2 separate regions of the Homo sapiens genome follow, and region 1 is linked to region 2. Evidence: fine-mapped expression QTL. A gene starts in region 2. The other region holds a variant in brackets. All regions are shown on one strand. Distances are between the middles of the regions. Region 1 overlaps EPHB1 (EPH receptor B1). Region 2 holds the start of EPHB1 (EPH receptor B1).

Region 1 (4,000 bases), 110 kb after region 2:
TGAGTATCTTTTGCAGCAATTTTGAAAGCCACTTATTCCATCTCTATAACGGTTAGTTTAGTCTAAACCAGATAATGTGGCCTGGAAATGCTCTTCACCAGGCATCTGTAAATTGCCATATTCCATGCAGATAATGAACATGGAGTTAGGGCACCCTGGCCACCCTTCCGCAGGTTGCCCTTGCAGGCTTTTCAGGACACATGGTCCTGACTATGGCCCAAGTTGAGGGTACTAGGTCCCATTTGTATATTCGGTATTACTAAAACTTATGTTTCTCTCATCTTATTTGATGTATTAAAAATAAATAGAAATAAAAGTGCGGGCACTCCACTTGGAGCTCTGGGTGGCTCCGTGCCAAGCTGGGGACAACAAAGAGCTTATCTGGAGGTCGTTGGAAGGAGCAGGGCTCTGAGAGCCTGCTCAGGGCTCCAGTCTGGGCTCCTGCATTCCAGGCATCCCCTGAAGCTTTAGGGTAGCTCCTACTGGTGCTGGCAAAACAAGGGTGAGTGTATGGAATGAGAGAGGCTGACTCTTCACATCCAACCTCTCTGGCCTCTTCAGCAGTGTGCCCAGGAGAGAAGCCTCAGCTTGCCTCAAGGCCTAGGATGTGCTGACGTGCACAGTGAGCACCGGCACTTTTAGCAGCATCATTTGTCATTAAAATGAATTTGCTTGGGATCGCTGCTGCCCTTTCTGAGAATCTCCTTCTCAGAAGGTCCTTGGGGCTGGAAGTTTGGGGTCCTTTCACTGTCCACTCATGTATACTTCCCTTCCACCCAGCCTGGACTGTGTACGCCTGGACCAGGTTTTATTCTAGGGATGGGAATGATGGGGCCTTGGTAAATGGAGGGACCAAAGGTAAGAATTCTATCAAAGGTAAGAATTAGGTAATAGATTAACCAGACAGAGTTGGAAGGAAAGATTTGTGAAGTTATTAAAAATTGCTTGGTGTTCTAAAGCTGGTTATTATTCCATTGTTGCTAATTCTGGGTCCCAGTGAATCCACAGGAGAGAAGTTTCACTGTGACCCCACCGCAGCCAGATGTGCCCACGAAGGAAAAAGCCTGAAGGCATTTCAGGCCCTAATTGGTTGTTTCTGTAATGTTTTTCATTGATTGTGCAGCGGCAGTGCAAGCAGCTGCCCAGGGAGCAGAGCAGGCAAGCACCGGGGGCCTTTTCAGGAGGGTGTGTCTACCTGTCATGAGGCTGTCTGCTGCTGGCCTAGGAGATCTCCAAGCCCTTTTGGATCCCCCAGCCCTGGAAAGGAGGCTGGCTCCAGGTGGGAGAAGAGGTAGCACTCTTGCCCAATTAGGAGCCTGTAGCTCCCAGGCTTTCCTCCTCTGAGTGAACATTTCTTTCTGAGGCTGGATTCTGCCCTCTGATTATCGCAACACATCGCCTGTTTGCTTTTTCTTGGTTTAACTCCCACACTAATTTTGTGCATGAATGAGTACAGTGAAACCAGTTTAATTTGCTGTTAATTCTCTGTTCAAAATATTCTCTTCTGTTTAAGGGACATAGTCGCTTTCATCTCTGAGGCAGCGTGTGAAAGCAGGCAGCTGCTAGGGTGGTGGAGGGGTGCCTGCGAGTGGGTGTCAGCCTGGGCCAGTGTGTCTGTGGTCTGTGGTCTGTGGTGGGGGGTGGCAGGTAAGCACCATGGGGGTGGACATTTCTCAGAAGCAACAACCCACAGTTTTTGGGGCTTTACACTTGCTGAGCCAGCGGATGGTTTGACTCTGCATGGGAAAAAGTTCATAGCTGGGAGAAATACCTCCTCACCAAGGGGCTATGGCTGAGAGATTTTGGCACACACACTGAGTAGCTAGTCTCTTGGAGATCACGAGTATGGGATGGGGAAGTGAATTCTACAGCTGATCACAGATAGTCAGGGAAGACATCTGACTGTCATTTAGGAAACACAAACTTTAAACATTCCTTCAAAGTGTCTAAATATAGTGTTTATACAATTTGTTCAAGCTTAGTTGGTGAAAGAGATCTGTTTTTG[A/T]CAAAATGTTCTTGTTTGGGTCTGCTATGCCTAGCTCTTTTACTTCTCTGCTTTAACCAGGGGCCTTTTAGGGGAGCGGGCTTTGCACCAGGTGGCAGAGTGCCCAGTCACAGGACTGCACTTGGAGAGACAAATGATCTCTACAGGAGCTGAAACTGTAAAACAAAAGTAATGGGGCATGATTCCACAGCACTGGTCACCATGAGTCAGCCCCTGAGACCATGTGGGAGTGGTTGTGGCTGTGGGTGAGGGTCCTGCTTCACTCCCCAATAGCTGCATCAGTACCCACCTCCAGTGCAGTGTTTCTTTAGAATACTCTTGTAAGTTGCAGGTAGAGAAGATTGGATGGACACTGGGGATCAGCCTTCCTCCACTTTCCTCTTTGGAGCTATCCAAAGTGCTGGCTGAGGGGGCCCCAGGAGCCTCTCTCTGAAGCCGACATATTTTCTCTGTGAGTTTCCACATGCTGCTGGCCTACCAAACTGATTGTGGAGTGTGCGCACTGCAGCCACTCCCCGCCACACCTTCCACACATTTCTCTTGTCACTTTCCGCATGTCAGGCATTTCTCTTGTCATTCCCGGCATTACTGACTGCCCAGCATTGCCAACCAGGGGGCAGGGCAAGCATTCTGCTTTGGGAAGCACATGTGGTTTATCCATCAGCCCAGCACATCTGTAGGGACCACCCGCTGGGAAAAGGTGCAATGGAGTGGAAGCCTAAGGAAAAGAGGAAGAGCAAAGGCAGCAGGTGGTGAGGTGGTTTTACAAGGGCCAGTCAGTGTGGCCTGTGGAGTACACCACACTTCTGGCCTCCTCTTTTCCTGTGCTGAGGTCTGGCCAAATCTGGACTGACTCTTGGCTTATGTTTCCTCTTGGTGCTGACCAGGAGCCTTGCTGTGGACATTTCCTCCCAACTGCCCTCTAAGCTGTGAAAGCCAGACAGAGCCTTGCCGTTTCCCCATGATTCCCAGGCAGTCCTTGGACTGTTTCGATTGAGCATCTTGCTGTTGGCTTCCCTTCTGAAGCCCCCTTTGCCCATCTGCTAGCTTCACTCCTCTGCCACCTGATTTTGCAGTATTGAATTTTCTCTTGGCTGATCTCCTTTCTCATACCTCTGATTGGTGGTTTCCATAAGATCAGAGGAGACTCTTCCGAGAGCCCAGGGCCCATGGCCCTTCTGAGCGCTCCCATGGTGATGCGATCCCATTGATGTGCCAAGTCTACAGAAACCCAGCTGACAAACACACTAATTATACACGTTCCTCTGCAAATTCATTAATGGCAAATGAGGCCTGTGTTCCCCATGTTTATTCTGTTTCCCTTTATACCCCTTTGGAAGGACTCAAATTCCTTTTTGAATTTTGTTGAAACCATTTAGCCCGAGGGGATAGCATCATAGATCAGAATTAGGCCAGTCATCTTCTGTAGGTACACTCTATTTAGATGACTTAGTAATATAAATTTTATTTAATTTTATTTTTGTTCATTGAGTATCCTCTGGGTTCCAGCTGGTGATTTTCTGGTATTCTAGAGGTCACACAAACTTTTGTGGACGTTTATAGGTATGCTGATAGCTGTAAGAGTTTTTTCTTTTAATTGTACAATAAAATAATGAATGAAGTGATCAAACGTGAAAAGACAAGTTTTAAATATCACTGATCAAATTCTTCTAGCATGTTTGTCCAGGCCACAACCCTTCACTATCTAGTGGTGGGAAAATTATATATCATGGGCCAAATCCAGCCTATAGTTTGCTTACATGAGGTAATGGCAATGGCAGAATTGAGTAGTTGCAACAGAGATCTTATGGCTCCCAAAGCCTAACATATGAAGTTTGCCAGCCGCCAGAGCAGACCATCATAACACTTATCAGAGCAGCCAGTGTGGTCAGTGGTAAACCAAGGCCCTCTTGGAGAATGTGCTCCTGGGTTGGGCTGGAGGACTTTACCTAGACCTGTGCTGCTTTGCAGCCCAGAGGCTATCACCCCAGAGGT
Region 2 (4,000 bases):
TGGAGGCGTAGAGGGCAGCTAACATGGCATTAAGGTGGATGATGAGAAGGTGGAGGTTGATGACATCTTCCCTTCAGGCACAGAGGTGGGGTAGGAGGGAGGGGAGGGGAGGAGGAAGGCAGCCTGAGTCAGAGCCAGGGAAGGAAAGAATTGTCAGGATTGGGGGACTTGAGTCTGGCTGTGGTGGAGAGGAAGAAGTCCCAGCAAAGGAGAGACTAGACACGCAGAGGTGGGGGGTGTGGGGAACTGATTTAGAAAAGCCCAGAAAGGAGAGTCATCCCAAAGGGAAATATCGCATCTGCCCACTGTTAGCTCATTAACAGACCAGGGGAAAGGATTGGTGCCTCCAAGGTGAGAGGCGTAGGAGGAGGGGTGGGGAACCTAACGGGTCATCCCTGACCCTGTAGGACCAGACTATCATCAGGTATGTAGGGGGGGCGGGAGAGGAGGGAAGGACACATCTCCAGCATAACATATAACAGCCTCAAGGTGAGTTTCTGATTTAGAACCCTTGACCATCTCCAGAAACAGGAAGATAAAGTGTAGCTGTGAGAGCTGAGCCTGGGAGAATTGCTCCTATCTCCAAGGCTGCATCCCCAGTTGCTGCCTAAGTCCTTCCCACCCACACTGAAGGCCTGGCCCACAGCAACAGTGCACCTCGCCTTGCACCGGCCTGGGAGAGCCCTCTTGCAGGCTTTGCTGTTTTATAGCTGACTGTGTGACTCCTGGTCTCCCCACGCTGAGCTGTCCTCTGGGGTCAGGGCCCTCTGTGGAAGTTCACAATGCACTGGGAAGTGAACACCAAAGGCAACCAGAGGCTTCTGCAGAAAAAGAACTGCGAAACGTTGGACAGGAAGCAAATCCGGTTCCCTGTGGACCCTGGAGCAAGTGCCCACAGGTTATCTGAACAGTATTCATTCTTTCGACGGACATGTACTATGCCTCCCGCAGGCCAGGCACTGTTCTGTGAACTGTGGATTCTGTAGTGAACAAAATAGACAAGAATCCGAAAATGGTGACCCCATTTTAATGAGGGAGAGACCCCACGATAAACAAAATCGATTAGTAAATACCAACCCATGCTAGAGAGTGAAGAGCTCTGGAGGAGAGGCACGGGTGCGCCCCTGGAGTTGCTCTAAACAGGGTAGGCAGGGTGCTCTTGTCACAGAGAAGATGAACGAAGGCTCGTTTGATCATTTAAAGCGGATCCAGTCCTGGGTGGGATGTAAGGGCACGAGGCCTCCCCAGCTCCTTCGCTGGGCACCCTATGGGGGGACAGGGTGAGTTGGGCGGGCCGCTGCGGTTCTCCGAGAGCACCACGAGGGGGAGCCCGGACCCCTCCTAGCGCCTTCCGAGCCCTCCCGCACAGCCTTGCAAGCAAAAGTTTTTCTTAAACTAACAATGCCAGTGTAAGGAGGTGCTCGCGCCTGATTGGCCGGGGGAATTTTGCAGGTTTGATTCCTTGATTGGACAGGAGGTGTTAGGGGTGGGGAGAGAGCTGATGGTGGGGGATCCCGCTCCCTCCCGCGTCAGTCTGGCCGGCTCCGTCCTCCCGTAGGCTCCGCTGTAGCTAGCAATGTGACACCAGGACGCACTCGCTCTCGCGCGCTCTCCCAGGCTCGTTCTCCCTCGCCCTCTCTCTCTCACACACGCACGCACACACCCACCTCTCCCATAAACACACACACACACATGCACACCCACACCCACGCGCGCCCGCACCGCCCCACGCGCACACACTCCTGCCCACGCCCACGCAGCGCTCCGGGAAGTCCGGTCCGGGCGAGAGCGCGAAAGGATACCGAGAAGCCACCCGCGGAGAGCGCAGCGGCGCCCTGGGACGCGGCGCTCTCCCGGCGCTGCTGCCTCGGCTTGGTCTCGGCCTGCGGGCCGTCGGCCGGCGATGGCCCTGGATTATCTACTACTGCTCCTCCTGGCATCCGCAGTGGCTGCGATGGAAGGTAACGTACCCTCCACGGAGCAAGTTGGCTGCTGGTGCCGGCCGCCTTGGGACTGCTGTGCTCCGCGGTTCGCGGGGTTCCTCTGGCTGCTTTGCGGTGCAGGCATCCCGGGACCCGAGGGCAAGGAGGTTTGGGAGCCTCGGCCGCTGCCGAGCGCGGGGCTTGGGCGGCACCCACCAGAGCGCCCCCGGCTGGCTCTTAGCGCCCGAAACTGGCTCGCGAGTCCCCCGGCTTCCTCGCCCCGGCACTCCCTGGTAGCCTCGGTCTCCCGCAGCCCCCGCTCGGAGAGCTCGGAGCCCGCTGCATTGCGGTGCATGCTCCTTAGCTCTGGGGCAGAGCCAGAGCTGGGCGTTGGGGAGAAAGGGGTGCCTCTGGCCATCCGGCTCCTGGAGTACTGGCGCCCGTCTGCTCCCAGGCACGGATACGCTTCTGAGCAGCCGCGCGCCACCTCCTTTTCTCCAGCTCGCAGTCCACGGGCTAGTGGACTCTGCTTGGCGTGCAAGCACTGCGCGCGGGGGCCGGAGAAGCTCTGCCGTGGTATCCCGCAAGTGGCCGCCGAAGGAGAGGGGTGGAGTTCATTGGCCGTACCCTTGGGGACCAGTCTGGTGGTCCGGGCGCCTGCGGGACTGCAGGTTTCCAGGGTCAGTCGGGGAGAGGTGGAAACCCTTTTCGCCTCTTGAGCCTTGGAACAGGAGTGGGCTGGGGTGAGTGGTCGGTCCTACCTAAAGTCTCCCAGCCTCTCCACCACCCCGGAGAGGATACTCGGCGGCCGGGAGTCGTCGGGCAGCGTCACTCTCTGCCAGCTCAGACTTGGCGGTGCCTCCGGCTTGGTGGCTGGGAAAGCGCGCTCCAAAGACACCGTGCCCGGCGCAGCGGGGAGCCTGGGCGCTCGGTAGCGCTCGCGAATCCCTGTGGGAAATCCCGGCCCAGCTCCCCGCCTCCCGCCCCTTCCCCCGCCTCTGTTCTTCGCAGCCTAGCAGCGGCCGCGGCAGCCTCCTGGGAACACAGCTCCGCGGGAGAGCGGAGTTGGAGTTGTCGGGAGAAAACCAACTCTAGGGGTGATGCGCTGCCGCAGTCCGGCTAGCAGCCCCACTTTCCGGTGTCCTGCTCCGGATGGAACTCCTCTGGGGGACTCCAAGCCGGGGAGGAGCAGCTCTTGGCGACCGCGCAGCGTTCCCATCTGGGAGCTCGCTCCGCTTGTTACTCGTTCCTCGCGAAACTGTGACCGGTTGCCCAGTGGAAACTCCCCCAAACACGATGGTTTGGTGCCCCCCGCCATTCCGGAAAGCTCTGCCCTTCTGGAAGTGAAGCTGGAGGGGCATTCCGGGCCCTGAGGCGCGGCTAAGATTCCCTTCCCTTTTGGCGAAGACCACCGCATCCCACGTTTGTTCTGGTGGCGGCGTGGGGGTGCGGCGATTAATGCCTAGAAAGCTCTCGCTTGCTTTTCCGAAGGTGGCTTTTTGTCTGCCCTCAGTCTCCTGCTTCCCTCAGGGACTGCTGGGCTTTGTAGGGAGGGGAGCAAGGAGGGGTTTGCTTTTTGGAACGTGCAGGAGAAGACTGGAGCCGTGTGGAGTGCCGTCAACACCCTGGCGCAGGGATGCCTGGGTTTGACTTATTGAGAGACACGTGTGGGAGCAGTTGAAATTGGAAATTCAAGGGGATATATACCCCCAAACCGGGCAGGAAAGCCAGGGTGAGCGCATTTGCAAGGGCAATTCCAGACTGGACTTGCAGCATTGGGGTGGCGTCATGCAGGTCCGAGGCTCGGTCCGGCCCGCGGCTCTTTGCGCCCCCAGAGGTTCAGTGGCCGGGTCTCAGAGGAGATGGGTGCCCACTTTGGGGAGCGTGCTCTCGGCATTGGGTTCCTGTGCATGCAAGCGAAGTAGTTTGGAGAGCAAACGTATGGAAACACAGCAGGCATGAGGACGTGGTCAGTTTCCTCCCTGCCCCTCTTCTTGGCTAGCCAGAGGTCCCTGTCTGCTTGCCGGAAGCTGCCCGCGGGTGCCATTGTGTCAGAGCCCAGGCCTTCCGGAGCCACT

The links.
Region 1: its variant is fine-mapped to the expression of EPHB1 in caudate (GTEx, PIP 0.95). The same link has a PIP of 0.9 or more in cerebral cortex.

What each region holds. Positions count from the first base shown.
Region 1 is chr3:134,902,853-134,906,852 of GRCh38, forward strand. The region is part of intron 1 of EPHB1 (EPH receptor B1); the gene reads left to right. Among named protein-coding and RNA genes, the nearest start is that of EPHB1, 110 kb to the left of the region's middle. The variant A/T (reference allele first, on the strand shown) is at 2,006.
Region 2 is chr3:134,793,729-134,797,728 of GRCh38, forward strand. EPHB1 (EPH receptor B1) reads left to right here and starts at 1,532. Exons shown (of 16, transcript NM_004441.5): 1 at 1,532-1,961. The coding sequence starts at 1,904. RefSeq lists enhancers at 1,048-1,257, 1,319-1,613, 1,658-1,707, 1,718-1,907.